2 separate regions of the Homo sapiens genome follow, and region 1 is linked to region 2. Evidence: fine-mapped expression QTL. Tissue or cell type: thyroid. Region 2 holds a variant in brackets; the other region holds the start of a gene. All regions are shown on one strand. Distances are between the middles of the regions.

Evidence for each region. PIP is the estimated chance that this variant, and not a neighbour inherited with it, causes the effect.
Region 1: it holds the start of GPRIN2, and the variant in region 2 is fine-mapped to the expression of GPRIN2 in thyroid (GTEx, PIP 0.98). The same link has a PIP of 0.9 or more in cerebellum.

What each region holds. Positions count from the first base shown.
Region 1 is chr10:46,554,285-46,559,430 of GRCh38, reverse strand. GPRIN2 (G protein regulated inducer of neurite outgrowth 2) reads left to right here and starts at 2,773. Exons shown (of 3, transcript NM_001385282.1): 1 at 2,773-2,933; 2 at 4,736-4,846. RefSeq lists enhancers at 1,326-2,031, 2,737-3,442.
Region 2 is chr10:46,413,347-46,418,492 of GRCh38, reverse strand. The region is part of intron 1 of LINC00842 (long intergenic non-protein coding RNA 842); the gene reads right to left. It also overlaps the pseudogene HNRNPA1P33. Among named protein-coding and RNA genes, the nearest start is that of LINC00842, 18 kb to the right of the region's middle. The variant T/C (reference allele first, on the strand shown) is at 2,123.

The DNA.
Region 1 (5,146 bases), 140 kb before region 2:
CAACCACCCCATGTCCATGACACCCAGACTTCTGAAAAACTCCGGTCCTTGGCTGGGCATGGTGGTTCACGCCTGTAGTCCCAGCATCTTGGGAGGCAGAGGGGGCGGATCACCTGAGATCAGGAGTTCGAGACCTGGCCAACATGGTGAAACCCCACCTCTAGCAAAAATACAAAAATTAGCTGGGCATGGTGATGGGCACCTGTAATCCCAGCTATTCAAGAGGCTGAGGCGGAAGAATCTCTTGAACCCGGGAGGCGGAGGTTGCAGTGAGTCGAGATCACGCTATTGCACTCTAGCCTGGGTGACAAGAGTGAAATTCCATCTCAAGGAACAAAAACAAACAGAAAAACCCCTCCAATCCTGTAATGTGCAACCCACCTGTCCACGTGGTGCCTCAAACATCCCAGTGTGCCCCCGCTGGACCCCTGAGTGCACCCCACACTCATTCCTCTTCTGTCAGGGTTCAGAGTCTCAGCAAATGGTAGTTGGCCCATGTGGTCCTCAGGCCTGAGCTGCTCTCTACCAAAGCAATCTACACATATCCATCCCTTCCTTCCCCCATGCAGTGCAGCTTGTACCTCCAGGACCTGACCCAGGAGGAGCTCAGTAAATATTTGATCAAGTGACTGATAGCAGCGATAACACTCCACGGGACACGTTCACAAACACCCTCTTCCCCCAGCCCTGTTAGGTAGGTATAATTACTACCACTCTGCAGATGAGGAAACTGATGCCCAGAGAGATGAACAGTTTTGCTTGGGTGTGGGGTTGCACAGCCAGTGAATATGTGGGGGAGTTGAGATTGGAATTTAAGTGTGACTCCCCATGCTGGGTTCTCCCTGGACAGCTGCCACAGCCAGGGGAGCCTCCTTGCCAGGGCATGAATGGAAGAAGGGGGCCAGTTGGACAAGGAGTGATGCCCTGGGGTGAGGGCCAGCCAGCTGTGTTCACAGGTAGATTGCATGGCAGACATCTCCTGACACCCAGCCCCAAGAAGGCTTCCTTGAAACACACAGTGAGGTTCTTGGTTCTTGAGATGTCCTGGGAGCTGAGAGCCCCAGGTTTGGGGCCTGGATCTGGCACCAACTCTCAGTGTAACCACAAGCAGTCCATCCCTTCTTGGGGCTCAGCTGACTTCACTAAAGAGGGAATATGAGTAAGATGCCTAAGATGTGGAAGCAGAGGTCCTAATTCCTGGACAGGGGCAGAAGTGGGTAGTGGCCTCGGCAAACAAATCCCCTATTTGCCTCCTTTAAGCAGGATCCCCCTACCAGGCAGTGTGTGATGGTGAGGCCCAAGCCTGGGGTCTGACGTCGACACCCCTGTGGGCATTTGGCCAAAGGCAGCCATCTGCCAGAATCTGAGAGCTGCTCTCAGACCTCGCTGGAGAGGGCTACCTGGGGCAGTCTGAGTCTCTCTGGGCAGACTGAGGTCCTTTGCTACCCAAACGGGGAGAATTAGAGATACTGTTGGCTCCTGGGCACTGGAAGGGAGGAACGCAGGCCTCTCAGCACAGGGCTGGGCCAACAAGTTGGGGGTCCCGGCACAGGGGACAACGGAGAAGTGCCAACATTGGGACCCAATTATGTGATACTGGGGCCCAGAGATAGTACAGGTGCCTCATACCACGTGGCCCTGGGTGGACAGCAGGAATCTATTGCGAGTGGCGGGAGGCCGGGGCTGCCTGTCCTGCGCCCTGAAGCTGGCCAGCGGTTGTGGAAACTGGGGGATATTGAGGGAACCGTAGGCCCAGGTCCTCAGCCTCATAGTGTGGAACCTGGCGATCCCAGGGCCTGGGCTGGCCCCCGGCGTCACGGGACCGGGAAGGCGCTGTGGTGCTGCGGGGAATTGCGGAGAAGAAGGCGGGCTCCAGTGGAGGTGGCTCATCCCCGCACGGTCACTGCCCTCGCCCGCTGTTGGGGTCCGCGGCTGGGAGACTGAAGGCCTCAAGTCGGGCTGGGTAGGGGCACGTGGGCAGGGAAAGGGGTGGTAGATTACCAGTCTTCAGGGGCGGGGCTGGAGATGCAACCCTAGGGAAGGAGTCTACCAGGCTGGGCTCTTGAGGGGCAATGGAGGGCTCCGGGGGCCAGGCCAGGCCAGGATCATGGAGTTCAAAGGACTGGAGTGAGGTTTGGGGTCCATGAGAGTGGAGCTCAGAGGATGGGACGGTGGGTCCAGGATTTGGGACCTGGGGCTGGAAAGTCCGAGGCTAGTGGAGACCAGGCCTGGTATCCCAGACGAAAGGGCCCTATAGGAAACGGGGTCTCGTGGGCGGGATCTGGAGCCAGAGAATTGTGAGAGGCGGAGCTAGGATGGAGAAGGCGAGAGGAAAGGGGTAGCCGCCGGCGCGGAGACCTCAATGCGGGGCGTGGTGCGGAGGGGGAACTGGAGCGAGGGGCACTGGAGCGAGGGGGTGGGGCTACGAGGAGGTGGACTTGAGGGGCTGGGTCTGGGGCCGGAGAATCGTGGGGAGCTGCGCCTATACACCCGGGACGGTGGGGTTGCGTCGGGGAAGTGGGAGTCTTGGGGGTTCGCTGGGCAGCCTGGAGAACAGGCGGTCGTGGTGCGGGCGGGGCCGAAAAGACCGAGGACAGTGGGGACCCGGCCTGAGGAGGGGTCGGGAAGGAGGGGTGGGGGCGCGCGGACGCAGATCCCGGGCCGCGGCGGGGCGGTGGCAGGCTCCAGAGTGGCACGGGCCCAGGTGAGCGAGGTCTCCGCCCGCCGCCCCTCCCGCCGCCCCGGTGCCAGCTGCCCCGCTGGCCCCTCCCTGTACCCGGCGCTTGCTCCGCGGGCCGGGCCGACGGCGGCGGGCGGCGTCTCGCGCCCAGGCCAGGTCGGCTCTGGCTCCATCTTGGGCCGCGGCACCTGGCACCTGTGGCGGCCGCAGGAGCAGCGCTTCCCCCGCCTGCGCGGCCCCGGCGGGCGAGAGGGTGAGAGGCTGGCTCCGCGCGCTCCCGTTGGGGCGGGGGGCGTGGTGGGCGGCACCTCCCCCTTGCTGAGCCTCAGAACCCACTCCTTCCCGCTGCCTGCGCTCAGACCCCCGGCATCCTGGCCCCTGCCCAGCGCCCAGAGCCCCCGGTGGCCGCATCGCACTCCCCGCGCTCCGCCTCTCATTGTCCTGTCCTGTCCCCTCTTCTACGTCTCCTCTGCCCATCCTCCCATTTTCACAAGTCTGTCCGGGACCCTGTCTCCTTCGGCCTCCACCCCTGCTGCCATCGCTCCTCCCTCTCCCCTTCTTCCTTTTCCCCTCCCTCAGCCTACTGCGCCGCCTACCCCGCCCCCAGCCTTGCTGCCCTTTGGCTTCTCCTGTCCCGCATCATTACCCCGGCCCACAGCCCCATTTGCCTGCAGTCGCTGCCTTTGCTCCTGAGAAGGTCTGTAGCCTCGTTTCGGGCCCGTATTGAGCCCCCTTCTCCCTAAGTCCGGGTGGGCTTTGTGCAGGAGGGGCGGGAGGGGAGCTATTCTGGGCGAGGCTGCGTGGTGCGGTGCTTTCAGGCCTTTGGCCCCGCAGCAGGGGCGGCCTGTGCTTGGCGTGCAGAGTGCAGCTGGGTAGACGCTGTTACTGCATACGGGCCTGTGTGTCCCAGGCTGGGGCATGAGTGCTTGTGAGCGTGCAGATAGGGACACACCGGCCGCCTAGGCTGCTTCTAGGCCGGGGCACCCTCTCCACCTAGGTGCCCCCCAGGGATTGTGGGCAAATCCTCCCCAGGGGAGGAAGCTCAGGGGCTGTTGGGCGCCTAGGCCTCTTCCTGGTGAGCAGAGCCTCATCCATGGGGCCACTGACCCCACAGTTACCCCAGAACCCTTTCCTGGCACAGCTTGTGACCCGGGGCATGTAGCCCTTAAGGCACGTTCATTGTGAAGGGCAGGTTTTGTCTCCTCCAAACCCTCCCTTTAGGAATGCTGCCTGCTGCTTTGCCCAGAGTTGGCCCTGAGTGTTCCTATCAGGCCCCGTTCACTCTGGGGTGGATTAAACCACCTCCTGGAGGGTGCTGTATCCCCACTGTGCAATGGGGGTTTGTGCTGTGTGCATTCCTGCCTGGTCCTTGAGAGGTAAGGTCCATATTTTAACATAGAACCAGTTTTCCTGCCTGATCATATAGGTTTGCTTTTCCTGTTTTGGTTTTGCCGGACACATAAGTCATCATCCAAATGCTTGCCACTTAACTAGAGGGGACTTGGGCCAGGCGCTGTGGCTCATGCCTGTAATCCCAGCACTTTGGGAGGCCGAGGCAGGTGGATCACCTAAGGTCAGGAGTTCGAGACCAGCCTGGCCAACATGGCGAAAACCCCATCTCTACTAAAAATACAAAAATTAGCTGGGCGCCGAGGTGCACGCCTGTAATCCCAGCTGCCGGGAGACTAAGACAAGAGAATCACGTGAACCCAGGAGGCAGAGGTTGCAGTGAGCCGAGACTGAGCCATTGTACTCGAGCCTGGGAGACAGAGCGAGACTCTGTCTCACAAACAAACGAACGAACAAAACCAAGAGGGGACTTAGATGGATGCCACAGTGTTGTCTGAGATGGAGCCCACTTGTGGTGGTCTTGGTAGTCCCCTGGGCATATCCCAAAGGCCTGGGCTCCTCTGCTGTGGCAGCATGGCGGGAGCTGGACTCTGTACGTTGACTCAAAGGTCTCTATGTTTGGGCTAGTCTGGAAGTGTCTGAGAACTGGGGGCTTTTACTCAAAATGACATTGGTTGATTGCTACATAGGTGGTTGATCTTCCAGTTGCTGACAGGTGGAACCTGAGGCAGCAGGACAGCCTGGCATTGGCCACGGGACATCGGCCACAACCATAGCAACTTCGGCATCAAATGGGGCAGGAGAGAGAACATTAAGGTATCGTTCAAAGAATACTAGAGGTCTTGGATACTTCTGTATGCCTGTTCTTTATCTTGTCCTAAAAGATCTTCCGAGGGTCCCTTTAGGGCAAAACCAGAACCTTCTGTGTTGTTATAAAGGCAGGGTGGGTGTGCCATTCTGGGCATTTAAAGTGCAGACTCTAGACTTGTATGCATGCGTAGCCTCCTAGGTTAACATTTAAAATAGGCTCTGGGAAACCTAGTTTGGTGATAGGGAGACTGGGGACACTGATGGTGACCTGGTCCTAGGATGGGATGAAGGTAGCGAGGATGGGAA
Region 2 (5,146 bases):
AGGGCTCATTTGCTCTGAAATGGGCCTCCCAGTGGAACAGTGACGAAGAGGCAGAGTCAGCCGTGGCGGAAGAGCAGGAAGGAGAGGAGTCCCAGAGCAGGATGGAGGGAGCATCAGGGAGATGGGTGGATGGCCAGGGCTGGCCTATGGGGCGATGACCAAAGGTTGCAGGGGTGGGTTCAGGAATGAGACCAATGAAGTCTCCTGATTTATGGCTTCCAGCTTTGGTGTAAGTCAATGACCCGAATCTCTGGAGAAGGGTGGGGAATCTGACTCTGAATATGTGGCCCAGGAGCCCTGCATGAAGGAGCTGGGGCCTGAAGAGTAACTCTGCATTGAGTACTAGGCCTCCAAATCAGATCCTGGCCAGCTGCTGTCTCTGATGGCTCCCAGTCCTCCCCTCAGACCCACGGCCGTAGGCCAGACTGGCAGGGGCAAGAGGCAGGAGCCAAGTGGGACATGTCCAGTGTCCTGGCCAAACATACACTGGACGCAGATGAGCCATATGCCTGGGAAACAGAGAAATGGGGTGAGGCCAGGTCTTCTTGTGAGAATGAATGTGCCTTACTCTCTCCTGGAGAGAGGGTGATGACAAGAGTTCATTCATTCATTCATAATTGCTTTTTGATTTAAGCAGGCGAGTTTGTTGTTTAACAGGCTGGGAACATCTCTCTTTTATTGAAACATGTGACATAGCAGGTTAAACTCCTAAAGATTCAGCACAGCAGATGAGAATCAAGGAGTTTCCTTCTTAAAAAGCATAACTTGCATATGAATGAAGATGATTCCAAATTATGTTTTTTCCCCATGACCCTAAAATTTTATCCCAAATGGAGTTATAATATTAGATATTGATCAGATCAGCATTTCATATCAAAGCTCAGGACATCCATCTAAATATTTAAAAATCTTTCACTCTCACAGCACATCTTGTGATCAATGTAAAACAAACAGATAGGAACAAATCAAATATGAGAGAAGGGTTTATGGTGAGAGAAAACAGTTTCTATCCTCTCCCCTCCCCAGTCCTGGCCTCACTCTCCAGAGGCAACTTCTTGTAAACATTTCCATTTTTAGTACTTCTGGTGGGTGCCTCCACAATGCTTAGTAGCATGTATAGGCACCCTTATTTTTTTATTCATCTGGAGAAAATTTATCTACCTCCTGTGATGGAACATAAGAAATGGCCTCATTATGCACCTCTGCTTCCTCCCTTCATCCTTCCAAAGTTTTATCATTTTGGCATAATTATTTTTAGTTTTCTGTTATTTACTTTTAAAACTTTAAACCATATAATTGTACTTTGATTCTGCATTCCATCCACCTCAGGGAGAGTAACGGTCTGGGGCGGTCAGGTTGGGTCTGTTCCCATACCCTCCCCTTCTTCTGAAAGGACTCTCCCCTCCCTCCCGGGGGCCTGTGCCCATGACCAGCCAGTCACAGGGCCAGGCATATGTCCTGGGCCCTGGCCACTGTGGGATACAGGCATGCTCCCCAATCTTGACCACTAGGAATCCTGCAGGACTTTCACTACTAAAACTGCTCTCTTCAGGTCACAACAGTAACTATCAGTTCAACTACAACAAAGGTTTCTGAAGACAATGGCTTCTCCACCCAAGCAGGTTGTATATAAATTCCAAATAGAACTTGGCATCACCCTGAAGGAATTCTAACTTCACACTGTTGGGGAAATTTACCAAGATAGCTTCAGAGTAAACTAACTTTACACAGCACATTAAAACAAAAGACATTTATTCAGCGTCATGATCAGACTATTACATTTAGCAATCAACAGCATGGGTGCAAAAAAAAAAAAAACCTATATTAAAACCCTTAGCTGGAATGCTTTACACTTTCCACAGAACAGAAACTAAAATAACCTGTTATACAGTTAGTCACAAATACAGTCCTCGAATTTTTTGCCCATACACATGAGTATTTGTCTAAAACATGTCTTCTTTGTAGCAGCTAGGCCCTGCCACCACTGTGCTTGGCTGAGTTCACAAATCTGTCGTAACCTGTAGATTCCCTGTCATTTCTCTGGCTCTCCTCTCCTGCTAAGCTTTGTTTCCTAATTAAAATCTGCCACTGCCATAGCTACTGCTGCTGCTGGAACCGCCAA[T/C]AGCCACCTTGGTTTCATGGTTTTGCAAAGTATAGGCCTCCATTGCCACAGGGGCCAGAGCTTCTGCCTCCAAAATTTCCTCCCTTCATGGGTCCAAAATTTGAAGACTCATTGTTGTAATTGCCAAAATCATTGTAGCTTCCACCACCTCCAAAATTGCTTCCATCATTACCAAATCCATTACAGCCATCCCCACTGCCACCATATCCACCACCACCACGACTGCCACCAAAGCCACCAAGACCACTGAAGTTTCCTCCAATACCAAAGTTGTCATTCCCACTGAAACCACCTCCACGACCACCACCAAAGTTTCCAGAACCACTTCGACCTCTTTGGCTGGATGAAGCACTAGCCATCTCTTGCTTTGACAGGGCTTTCCTAACTTCACAGTTGTGGTCATTCACAGTATGGTATTTCTGAATGACAATCTTAACGACGGAGTCATGGTCGTCAAAAGTTACAAAGGCAAAGCCCCTTTTCTAGCCACTGACTCGGTCAGTCATGATTTCAGTCACCATTAAAAGGGATTACCCAAGCAAAATCATGGAATTATTGGTTATAAAAGTAATTGTTGGCACATCCTATGTAACATATCTAATTGAATAATGGTACCAGATTAAATTATAGATGGGAATGAAGCTTGTGTATCATCCATTATCATGTGTAATCAATAAACAATTTAATTCTCTTGAAAAAAATAAATAAAACTGCTCTCTTTTGTTCTGGGATTACCTCTAGGAAGGAAATGTAAAATCAGCTCTTGTAGGGTGCCTCCAGGCCCCTGACACGTGGAAAGATCGTGCAGGAGAAAACCAACCCAGAGGTCAGTGGAGGTGGAGAGGAAGTTGTGAGAGAGATCAAGCTGTGGTGGTGAGAAAGGCAGCTAGTCCTGCTCACTGAAGCCTCCATTGCTTCCGGACTGTCACAGTTACACCGACCTGACAATTTCAGTATTAGCATTAGAGAATTGTTTCAGCTTTCCAACTAACGCAGGGTGTATTGTACACCCCACCTCAGGTAAGATGAGAATTAGCACGTAGGCTGCCTGTGCTACTTTTCTGTTGCTGCTGTAACAAATTTCCACAAATTTATGATTTGCTTAGAGCACCACAAATCTTACAGTTCTGGAGGCCAGAAGTCCAGCATGGGCCTCACGGGGCTAAAATCAGTGTCACAGGGCAGCTGTGTTCCCATGAGGCGGCTGTGTTCCCATAAGGCTCCGGGTGGAGACTGTTTCCTTGCCTTTTCCAGCTTCTAGAAGCTGATGGAGTTCCTTGGCCAGCCACTTTCTCCCTCCATTGTCACAGCAGGTGTGGCTTCACTCTGACCTCTTCTGCTTCTCCCTTCCACCGAAGGGCCCCTGTGGTTACACTGGGTACACCTGGGGGCTTAGCCTGTCTAATATTGCCACACCCTCTTGTGAATCTTCTTTTTTCTTTTCTAAGAGATGGGGTCTCGCTTTGTTGCCTAGGCTGGAGTAGGGTGGTGTGACGGTAACTCACTGCAGGCTTGAATTCCTGTCCTCAAGCGATCCTCCTGCCTCAGCCTCCGAAAGTGCTGGGATTACAGGTGGGAGCCACAGTGCTAGGCCTCTCATGAACCCTGTCTTCCAGAAATGTGTTGGACTCTCATCCATTAGTAAGCCATCTTTCTCTCTTTTTTTAATGCTTTTCCCTTATAGATTTACTCCATTTTAAATTTATAAGCTTAAATTTCAGTGATGATGTCTTAGGAAGAACAGGAGAGGAGGAACAAAGGAACAAACCACTTTAATGGGAAGCTGAAAGGACCCTTTTAAAAGTGTGCAGTGGGGAGAGCCTGGGCTTGGTCTCTGGTAAACCTGGTGAATGGTGGGTTAACACTCCCTCCCTCACTCGGTGTTGCTGGGAGGATAAGACAGAACTTGTGGCGAGCAGGTGTCCAATAGCTGCCTCTTGCTATGTGCAGCCAGTGCCACATCCAGGCTGAGTGCTGTGGGGAGTGTGGCTCATCCCGCTGGGGCCACCCCAGGCCTCGCTCACTGGAGACTCCAGAATCAGGGCTGACTGAGCAGCTTGTGGCACTGAAGAATGTTCTAGGAAAGGAGGTGTGTCCTCCTTGGAAGGGGAAGCTTCATGGTGGGTGAGCTGAGGGTAAGGGGTGGGTGAGGGCCATTTGAAGAGTCACCTCCCCTACATTCTTTTATCTTTTGGAGCCTCCATCCACGCCACTTCAAACAATGAACACACACATCCAAGTCAGTAAGTGCACTTTGTGTATATCTATATAAGTGATGCGCAATTACTATATAACAGTTCACTAGCTGACCTGACATTATTCACATATCGTAGGCATGTGACTAATTGTAGGTGTGTAATGAAGTGTTCACATCTTATTACATATTTAATTCCTAAGGCATTTCTACAGTTTTATTTGAGAATTTTGGAACTGCCAGTATGTTTTTCATGTTTCAAACCTTTTCACAGGCCCTGAAAAAACCCAAAGGCCTTATATTCTGGGACCGTAATGGACAAAACAGCCCTGGGAAGTATGCTTGAGAGGATGGCGAAGGCTGGGTTTGCTGAGGGAGGTGCCAGCTAAGGTGCTGGGCACACCAGAGGCAAGGGATCTGGACCACAACTGTCAGTTTGACGAACACACTAATGGTGGAGTGACCCCCACCAGGAGTGGCCAGCAAGCAGGGTCCAACAGGAAAGACATCTGGGAGGCCAGCAGGTAGAATCCTGGCTCTGCCACCTTCGTGCTATGTGATATCAGCCAAGTTACTTGCCCTCTCTGATTCTCAAATGCTCGGAGGCCCTTTGACCTCTAGAGTCTATGGGACCTGAGTGACCACAGGGCTCTTGTTTGTTGGTGGCTGCCTCTTTATTTAACTCCTTTTCTCAAATACGGTCTATGGGCTTTGCTTAAAGTGAGGTGTCCTGTGCACACTCTTCTCCATGACTTTGAGGCCGTGAGAAGCCCCGCCCTGCAGAAGGACTGAGGAAACTAGTGCTGGAGTCTCCTTTCTTGTATCAGTGA